Linked DNA regions of Homo sapiens: region 1 is linked to region 2. The links come from fine-mapping of genetic effects on gene expression. A gene starts in region 2. The other region holds a variant in brackets. All regions are shown on one strand. Distances are from middle to middle.

The links. PIP is the estimated chance that this variant, and not a neighbour inherited with it, causes the effect.
Region 1: its variant is the best candidate, but not a certain one, in a credible set for the expression of MTDH in whole blood (TOPMed, PIP 0.59).

Annotation. Positions count from the first base shown.
Region 1 is chr8:97,589,857-97,594,097 of GRCh38, reverse strand. No RefSeq gene overlaps it. Among named protein-coding and RNA genes, the nearest start is that of MTDH, 52 kb to the left of the region's middle. The variant T/C (reference allele first, on the strand shown) is at 2,309.
Region 2 is chr8:97,642,139-97,646,349 of GRCh38, reverse strand. MTDH (metadherin) reads right to left here and starts at 2,166. Exons shown (of 12, transcript NM_178812.4): 1 at 1,463-2,166. The coding sequence starts at 1,843. RefSeq lists silencers at 1,037-1,205, 1,489-1,558, 1,829-2,288, 2,469-2,578 and enhancers at 357-1,335, 1,336-2,316.

The sequences.
Region 1 (4,241 bases), 52 kb after region 2:
TACAGAGAACGCCACAAAGATACTCCTTGAGAAGAGCAACTCCAAGACACATAATTGTCAGATTCACCAAAGTTGAAATGAAGGAAAAAATGTTAAGGGCAGCCAGAGAGAAAGGTCGGGTTACCCATAAAGGGAAGCCCATCAGACTAACAGCGGATCTCTCGGCAGAAACTCTACAAGCCAGAAGAGAGTGGGGGCCAATATTCAACATTCTTAAAGAAAAGAATTTTCAACCCAGAATTGCATGTCCAGCCAAACTAAGCTTCATAAGTGAAGGAGAAATAAAATACTTTACAGACAAGCAAATGCTGAGAGATTTTGTCACCACCAGGCCTGCCCTAAAAGAGCTCCTGAAGGAAGCACTAAACATGGAAAGGAACAACCAGTACCAGCCACTGCAAAATCATGCCAAATTGTAAAGACCATCGAGGCTAGGAAGAAACTGCATCAACTAACGAGCAAAATAACCAGCTAACATCATCATGACAGGATCAAATTCACACATAACAATATTAACTTTAAATGTAAATGGACTAAATTCTCCAATTAAAGACACAGACTGGCAAATTGGATAAAGAGTCAAGACCCATCAGTGTGCTGTATTCAGGAAACCCATCTCACGTGCAGAGACACACATAGGCTCAAAATAAAAGGATGGAGGAAGATCTACCAAGCAAATGGAAAACAAAAAAAGGCAGGGGTTGCAATCCTAGTCTCTGATAAAACAGACTTTAAACCAACAAAGATCAAAAGAGACAAAGAAGGCCATTACTTAATGGTAAAGGGATCAATTCAACAAGAAGAGCTAACTATCCTAAATATATATGCACCCAATACAGGAGCACCCAGATTCATAAAGCAAGTCCCGAGTGACCTACAAAGAGACTTAGACTCCCACACAATAATAATGGGAGACTTTAACACCCCACTGTCAACATTAGACAGATCAATGAGACAGAAAGTTAACAAAGATACCCAGGAATTGAACTCAGCTCTGCACCAAGTGGACCTAATAGACATCTACAGAACTCTCCACCCCAAATCAACAGAATATACATTTTTTTCAGCACCACACCACACCTATTCCAAAATTGACCACATAGTTGGAAGTAAAGCTCTCCTCAGCAAATGTAAAAGAACAGAAATTATAACAAACTGTCTCTCAGACCACAGTGCAATCAAACTAGAACTCAGGATTAAGAAACTCACTCAAAACCGCTCAGCTACATGGAAACTGAACAACCTGCTCCTGAATGACTACTGGGTACATAACAAAATGAAGGCAGAAATAAAGATGTTGTTTGAAACCAACGAGAACAAAGACACAACATACCAGAATCTCTGGGACACATTCAAAGCAGTGTGTAGAGGGAAATTTATAGCACTAAATGCCCACAAGAGAAAGCAGGAAATATCCAAAATTGACACCCTAACATCACAATTAAAAGAACTAGAAAAGCAAGAGCAAACACATTCAAAAGCTAGCAGAAGGCAAGAAATAACTAAAATCAGAGCAGAACTGAAGGAAATAGAGACACAAAAAACCCTTCAAAAAATTAATGAATCCAGGAGCTGGTTTTTTGAAAGGATCAGCAAAATTGATAGACCGCTAGCAAGACAAAGAAGAAAAGAGAGAAGAATCAAATAGACGCAATAAAAAATGATAAAGGGGATATCACCACCAATCCCACAGAAATACAAACTACCATCAGAGATACTACAAACACCTCTATGCAAATAAACTAGAAAATCTAGAAGAAATGGATAAATTCCTCGACACATACACCCTCCCAAGACTAAACCAGGAAGAAGTTGACTCTCTGAATAGACCAATAACAGGCTCTGAAATTGTGGCAATAATCAATAGCTTACCAACCAAAGAGTACAGGACCAGATGGATTCACAGCCGAATTCTACCAGAGGTACAGGGAGGAACTGGTACCATTCCTTCTGAAACTATTCCAATCAATAGAAAAAGAGGGAATCCTCCCTAACTCATTTTATGAGGCCAGCATCATCCTGATACCAAAGCCAGGCAGAGACACAACCAAAAAAGAGAATTTTAGACCAATATCCTTGATGAACATTGATGCAAAAATCCTCAATAAAATACTGGCAAACCGAATCCAGCAGCACCTCAAAAAGCTTATCCACCATGATCAATTTGGCTTCATCCCTGGGATGCAAGGCTGGTTCAACATATGGAAATCAATAAATGTAATCCAGCATATAAACAGAACCAAAGACAAAAACCACATGATTATCTCAATAGATGCAGAAAAGGCCTTTGACAAAATTCAACAACCCT[T/C]CATGCTAAAAACTCTCAATAAATTAGGTATTGATGGGACGTATCTTAAAATAATAAGAGCTATCTATGACAAACCCACAGCCAATATCATATTGAATGGGCAAAAACTGGAAGCATTCCCTTTGAAAACTGGCACAAGACAGGGATGCCCTCTCTCACCACTCCTATTCAACATAGTGTTGGAAGTTCTGGCCAGGGCAATCAGGCAGGAGAAGGAAATAAAGGGTATTCAATTAGGAAAAGAGGAAGTCAAATTGTCCCTGTTTGCAGATGACATGATTGTATATCTAGAAAACCCCATTGTCTCAGCCCAAAATCTCCTTAAGCTGATAAGGAAGTTCAGCAAAGTCTCAGGATACAAAATCAATGTACAAAAATCACAAGCATTCTTATACACCAATAACAGACAAACAGAGAGCCAAATCATGAGTGAACTCCCATTCACAATTGCTTCAAAGAGAATAAAATACCTAGGAATCCAACTTACAAGGGATGTGAAGGACCTCTTCAAGGAGAACTACAAACCACTGCTCAATGAAATAAAAGAGGATACAAAGAAATGGAAGAACATTCCATGCTCATGGGTAGGAAGAATCAATATCGTGAAAATGGCCATACTGCCCAAGGTAATTTATAGATTCAATGCCATCCCCATCAAGCTACCAATGACTTTCTTCACAGAATTGGAAAAAACTACTTTAAAGTTCATATGGAACCAAAATAGAGCCCGCATTGCCAAGTCAATCCTAAGCCAAAAGAACAAAGCTGGAGGCGTCACGCTACCTGACTTCAAACTATACTACAAGGCTACAGTAACCAAAACAGCATGGTACTGGTACCAAAACAGAGATATAGATCAATGGAACAGAACAGAGCCCTCAGAAATAACGCCACATATCTACAACTATCTGATCTTTGACAAACCTGAGAAAAACAAGCAATGGGGAAAGGATTCCCTATTTAATAAATGGTGCTGGGAAAAGTTGCTAGCCATATGTAGAAAGCTGAAAGTGGATCCCTTCCTTACACCTTATACAAAAATTAATTTAAGATGGATTAAAGACTTAAACGTTAGACCTAAAACCATAAAAACCCTAGAAGAAAACCTAGGCAATACCATTCAGGACATAGGCATGGGCAAGGCCTTCATGTCTAAAACACCAAAAGCAATGGCAACAAAAGCCAAAATTGATAAATGAGATCTAATTAAACTAAAGAGCTTCTGCACAGCAAAAGAAACTACCACCAGAGTGAACAGGCAACCTACAAAATGGGAGAAAATTTTTGCAACCTACTCATCTGACAAAGGGCTAATATCCAGAAGCTACAATGAATTCAAACAAATTTACAAGAAAAAAACAAACAACCCCATCAAAAAGTGGGCAAAGGACATGAACAGACACTTCTCAAAAGAAGACATTTATGCAGCCAACAGACACGTGAAAAAATGCTCACCATCACTGGCCATCAGAGAAATGCAAATCAAAACCACAATGAGATACCATCTCACACCAGTTAGAATGTCAATCATTAAAAAGTCAGGAAACAACAGGTGCTGGAGATGATGTGGAGAAATAGGAACACTTTTATACTGTTGGTGGGACTGTAAACTAGTTCAACCATGGTGGAAGTCAGTGTGGCGATTCCTCAGGGATCTAGAACTAGAAATACCATTTGACCCAGCCATCCCATTACTGAGTATATACCCAAAGGACTATAAATCATGCTGCTATAAAGACACATGCACACGTATGTTTATTGCGGCACTATTCACAATAGCAGAGACTTGGAACCAACCCAAATGTCCAACAATGATAGACTGGATTAAGAAAATGTGGCACATATACACCATGGAATACTATGCAGCCATAAAAAATGATGAGTTCATGTCCTTTGTAGGGACATGGATGAAATTGGAAATCATTCTCAGTAA
Region 2 (4,211 bases):
CCTCTCCTAACTTATGGTAGTATTCACATTGACAAAGTTGTGCCTTTTCCAGGTTTCATATGTATCTTGCATCTCTTAATCAGCAGGCAAAACGTGAAGGCCTATCCAGGCCTCATAATGCACTAACTGTGACCTGTCACATCTCTAATCTAGAGATTAGAGTTTGTTACCAACAAAACTCTTGTTAGTTGGAACTCAAACCCCATTTCCTCCAACAACTTTCCTAAAGCCCTCCAGTGAAATGTCTCCTACCCTCCAAACCTCATTAACACTCAGTTAAAACCTCTTTAACACCTATCAGTCTATGCAAAATTCTAATTATTTATGAATCTGTCTCCACTACTCTCCAACACTGACTCTACGTGTATACCTTGCACTGCCCTCCAAACACCAGAGTGCAAATTTCACATGGTAGGGCCTTCGTACTGGCTTACTGAATTGTACTGAAAAGGTGAAGATCTTAATTCGCTGGATATAAAAATAGGTTAGGTGCTGTTTCTAACTCTGCATACCCTCCATAGTCTCAATTTGCTCAAATGTAAAATATTTTTAAAAATACATAAAACTATGAAAGATATAATGGGAGAACCATGGGAATGGCAATAAAGAATGTAAACGTAAAACATGAAGGCCTAAGACAGACGTGATGCCCTCTGCAACTTCCACACGTGGCCCAGTAAATCGGTGCCTGAATTCCTCTCTCGGCTTTCACCATTCTGCCCTGTCATCTCCCTTTACTCTATTTCACAAATCTACCACGCCACAGAGTGTGCAACAGACTCGTTCGTTGAACTCGCCTTAGCTCTTTCTCACAGGACCATACACCTCAAAGCGTATTAGGTAACCGACCCCCTCTTGCCTTGCTCCCGTTCCGGCCTCTGTTGGCCACATTTGCCAGAACAAGAATGGGCAACCATTTCCCTTTAACAGTCCCAACTAAAATGGAAGCGCGTCTAGACCTGGACACCTTTAATCCTGTGTAAGCCCCAGAATTTCTAGGTCACCGCACTTCTTCCACTGCCTACTGTCTCAATGTGACTTGAGATAGACATCTGTCTTCCGAGCGCAGTCTTTATACAACTTCCTAACACCACCTTAAGGTCCCATTACGCTCCACATGCAGCCTACTCTGCAGGCCTCAAGGAAGGATGCTGTGCTTATTCTAGCGGTGACGGTTCCCAAAGATGGCTTGACCTCTGGGCGCCTATCTGAACGGACCCCCAGACCTCCTAACTTCCTTCCTCGAAACTGGGCTTCCCCACTCGTCCTATACTTCCTGAGTTCCCCCCATTCCCCAAATAACATGACCACCTATCACCTCCTCCTCCACTTGGGAGTGCTGCCTCTCGGCTTTCGACTAAGCACTCTTTTCCTTCCCGGCTGGGGCGCGGCCTCCCCCAAGCTCGAGGGTCTCCACGCCCGCCCTTCGCCCGTTCTCTACTGCCGCTCATCCCATACTCACTTTGGGCTTCTCGGACAGTTTCTTCCGGTTCTTCTTCTTCTGTTCCTCGCTCCGGAGATTCTTCAGCAAGGCCAGGTCGTCGGGGGCCGCGGCCGGCACGGCCGCCGCCTCCTCCCGCTTGCGGGGCGGGCTCCTCCGCTTTTTGCGGGCGCCGGCGCAAGCCGCGGCCCAGCCGTAGCCCAGCAGAAACAGCAGCAGCAGCCCGAGCGCGCCAGTGCCCACCAGGATCACCCAGCCGGGGTACCGTTTCGGCTCCAGCCCCAGGTCGAGGCCCAGCTCGGTGCGCAGAAAGCCTAGGCCGACCGAGAGCATTTCCCGCAGCCGGGCCGAGCCCTCCTCGGCCTGCTGGGCCAGCTCGTCCTGCCAGCTCCGTGCAGCCATCTTCCCTCCCGTCAGAGGGACTCGCAGGATGACGCCGGGGCGCGGAGACGCAGTGGAATAGTCGAGGGAAGCGAGGAAGGGCCGGGCCGGGTAACCTCAGGCCGAGCGCATCGCGGCCGTCCCTCGCGCCGGAGCCGGGGATCGGCCGCTGCCACCGCGGGGAGGGCGGAGGGGTCTCCCAGGTTCCCCGCTGTCAGCCTCACTCCGCCGCCGCCAGGAGACCCGGGAGGCGGGAGGGAGTGTCTCCAGTGGCGGCCGCTAAGCGGCGTCTCGGCGCCAGCGCCAGGCCCCGCTGTCCTCCCTCGGCGGAACAATGGCGGCTTGGGCCGCGATCCACGCCGCGCGCGGGGACGACCGTGGGTCACGTGGGCGCCAGTGGGCGGGGCGTGGGCGTCACGTGGGGGCGGGCGGGGTCGGGTGGGGCAAAGGCGTGTCAGGGAAGGTTGGCGGTGGTCGGTTCGGGCCTGGTTAAGACGCGGCGTTGGGGACCCGTTACTGTAGACCAGAAGCTGGGAGGGGTTAATTGGTGGACGCCTTCGCGGGGTGGCTGGTGGCGCAGAGTTAGGAGACGTGGCGCAACGAATGAGTACAGAGGAGGGGCTCCGTGCAAGGCGGGGGCGGGCGGGGGGCGGGTAGGGCTGCAGCGCTAGGAACCGGGTCACCGGGTCTAGGTCAAAGTCGCCCTGGCAGGTATAGGGCTCTTCATGCCTTTTTCTGGAGTGTTATTGAGGTGGAATCGCTTTTTCTCCCTGGTGGCGCCAGTTGGATCCTTCCAGAATGAGCTCAACGGAGTCTGACGCCGAACACTGTTCTTCCGGGACCTAGGTTTAGTTCACAAATTGGGTATTTCTCTCCAGGGTGTTTCTCTCCAGGGCAACTAATACACTGCGTGCCTACCAGTTGCCAGCCTGGCGAGGGCACGTTTGCGTCGTTTGGCTCATTCACTCTTGCTCTCTGTTGTTAGTCCCCAGAATTCAAAAGTTGGAAAGCCCGTGGGCGGCACTATTCTTTTCCTACTAATTTGTAGCTTTAATAACACATAAGGGGAAGCACATTAGATTGTATTTACTTATGGAGGGAGCTTTCTCGTTACGTTTTATTTTAAGCTTTTCTACAACACTGCAAAAGGGGTTTGCAAAAATTCCATTTTTATATGCTATGTTGACCATCTCTGGGATGCAGCTATAGAAGGAAACGAACTGCCTTTTCAAATTTTTTTTTTTTGAGACAAGAGTCTCGCTCTGTCGCCCGGGCTGGAGTGCAGTGGCACTATCTCCGCTCACTGCAAGGTCCGCCTCCTGGGTTCAAGCCATTCTCCTGCCTCAGCCTCCCGAGCAGCTGGGACTATAGGCACCCACCACCACGCCCGGCTAATTTTTTGTATTTTTAGTAGAGACGGGGTTTCACCGTGTTAGCCAGGATGGTCTTGATCTCCTGACCTCGTGATCCGCCCACCTCAGCCTCCCAAAGTGCTGGGATTACAGGCGTGAGCCACCACGCCAGGCCTTCAGGTTTTAATTATAAGGGAAATGCTTGAAGGCTGCCTTAGGGTTTTAAGATTATATTTTGCTATAAGGAAACTCTGTATTTTATCGGTAAATGATCATTAGCGTGTAAGCAACTGTCTTAAGTGAACTAAATACAGGCTTTCTCAAGGAATACAGCAGGGGTAATATTAATAACCACCAAATACCAAAAATGTATTTTGACCTATTTTGCAACAGTGTCGTAATGCATATTGTGATTCATGTGTGGAAGGGAGTTTTGTAAATAATAAATAATAAAAGCATACTACACTTGCCAAGACTTATGATTAAAGACTAAATTAAATTAGGAGGCCAAAAACTTAGCAAATGTTATTGGGATCTGCTTTAACTCAAAGTTTCCAAATTCCATTTATATTTGTGAAATAAGATTTCTGCACGTGTTTTGGTTCTAGAGATGTGAAGGGTCATGATTTTCCTAAGAAGTTCCACTGACTATTCTGACCATTCTAGATAAACATCTGTGAATTTTTTATTTTTTATTTTTTGAGATGGAGTCTCGCTGTGTTGCCGAGGCTGCAGTCGCCCTGACTTCGTGATCCGCGCGCATGGGCCTCCCAAAGTGCTGGGATTACAGGCGTGAGCCACCGCTCCCGGCCCACCTGTGAATTTTCAAATTAAACTATTACAATAATGGCTGGTGCTGTGGCTCACGCCTGTAATCCCAGCTACTCAGGTGGCTGAGGCATGAAAATAACTTGAACCCAGAAGGTGGAGGCTGCAGTGAGCTGAGATCGTGCTACTGCACTCCAGCCTGGGTGACAGAAGGAGATTCTGTCTCAAAACAAAACAAAAAAACCTTTAAATTGAAGTGGTGCCATATG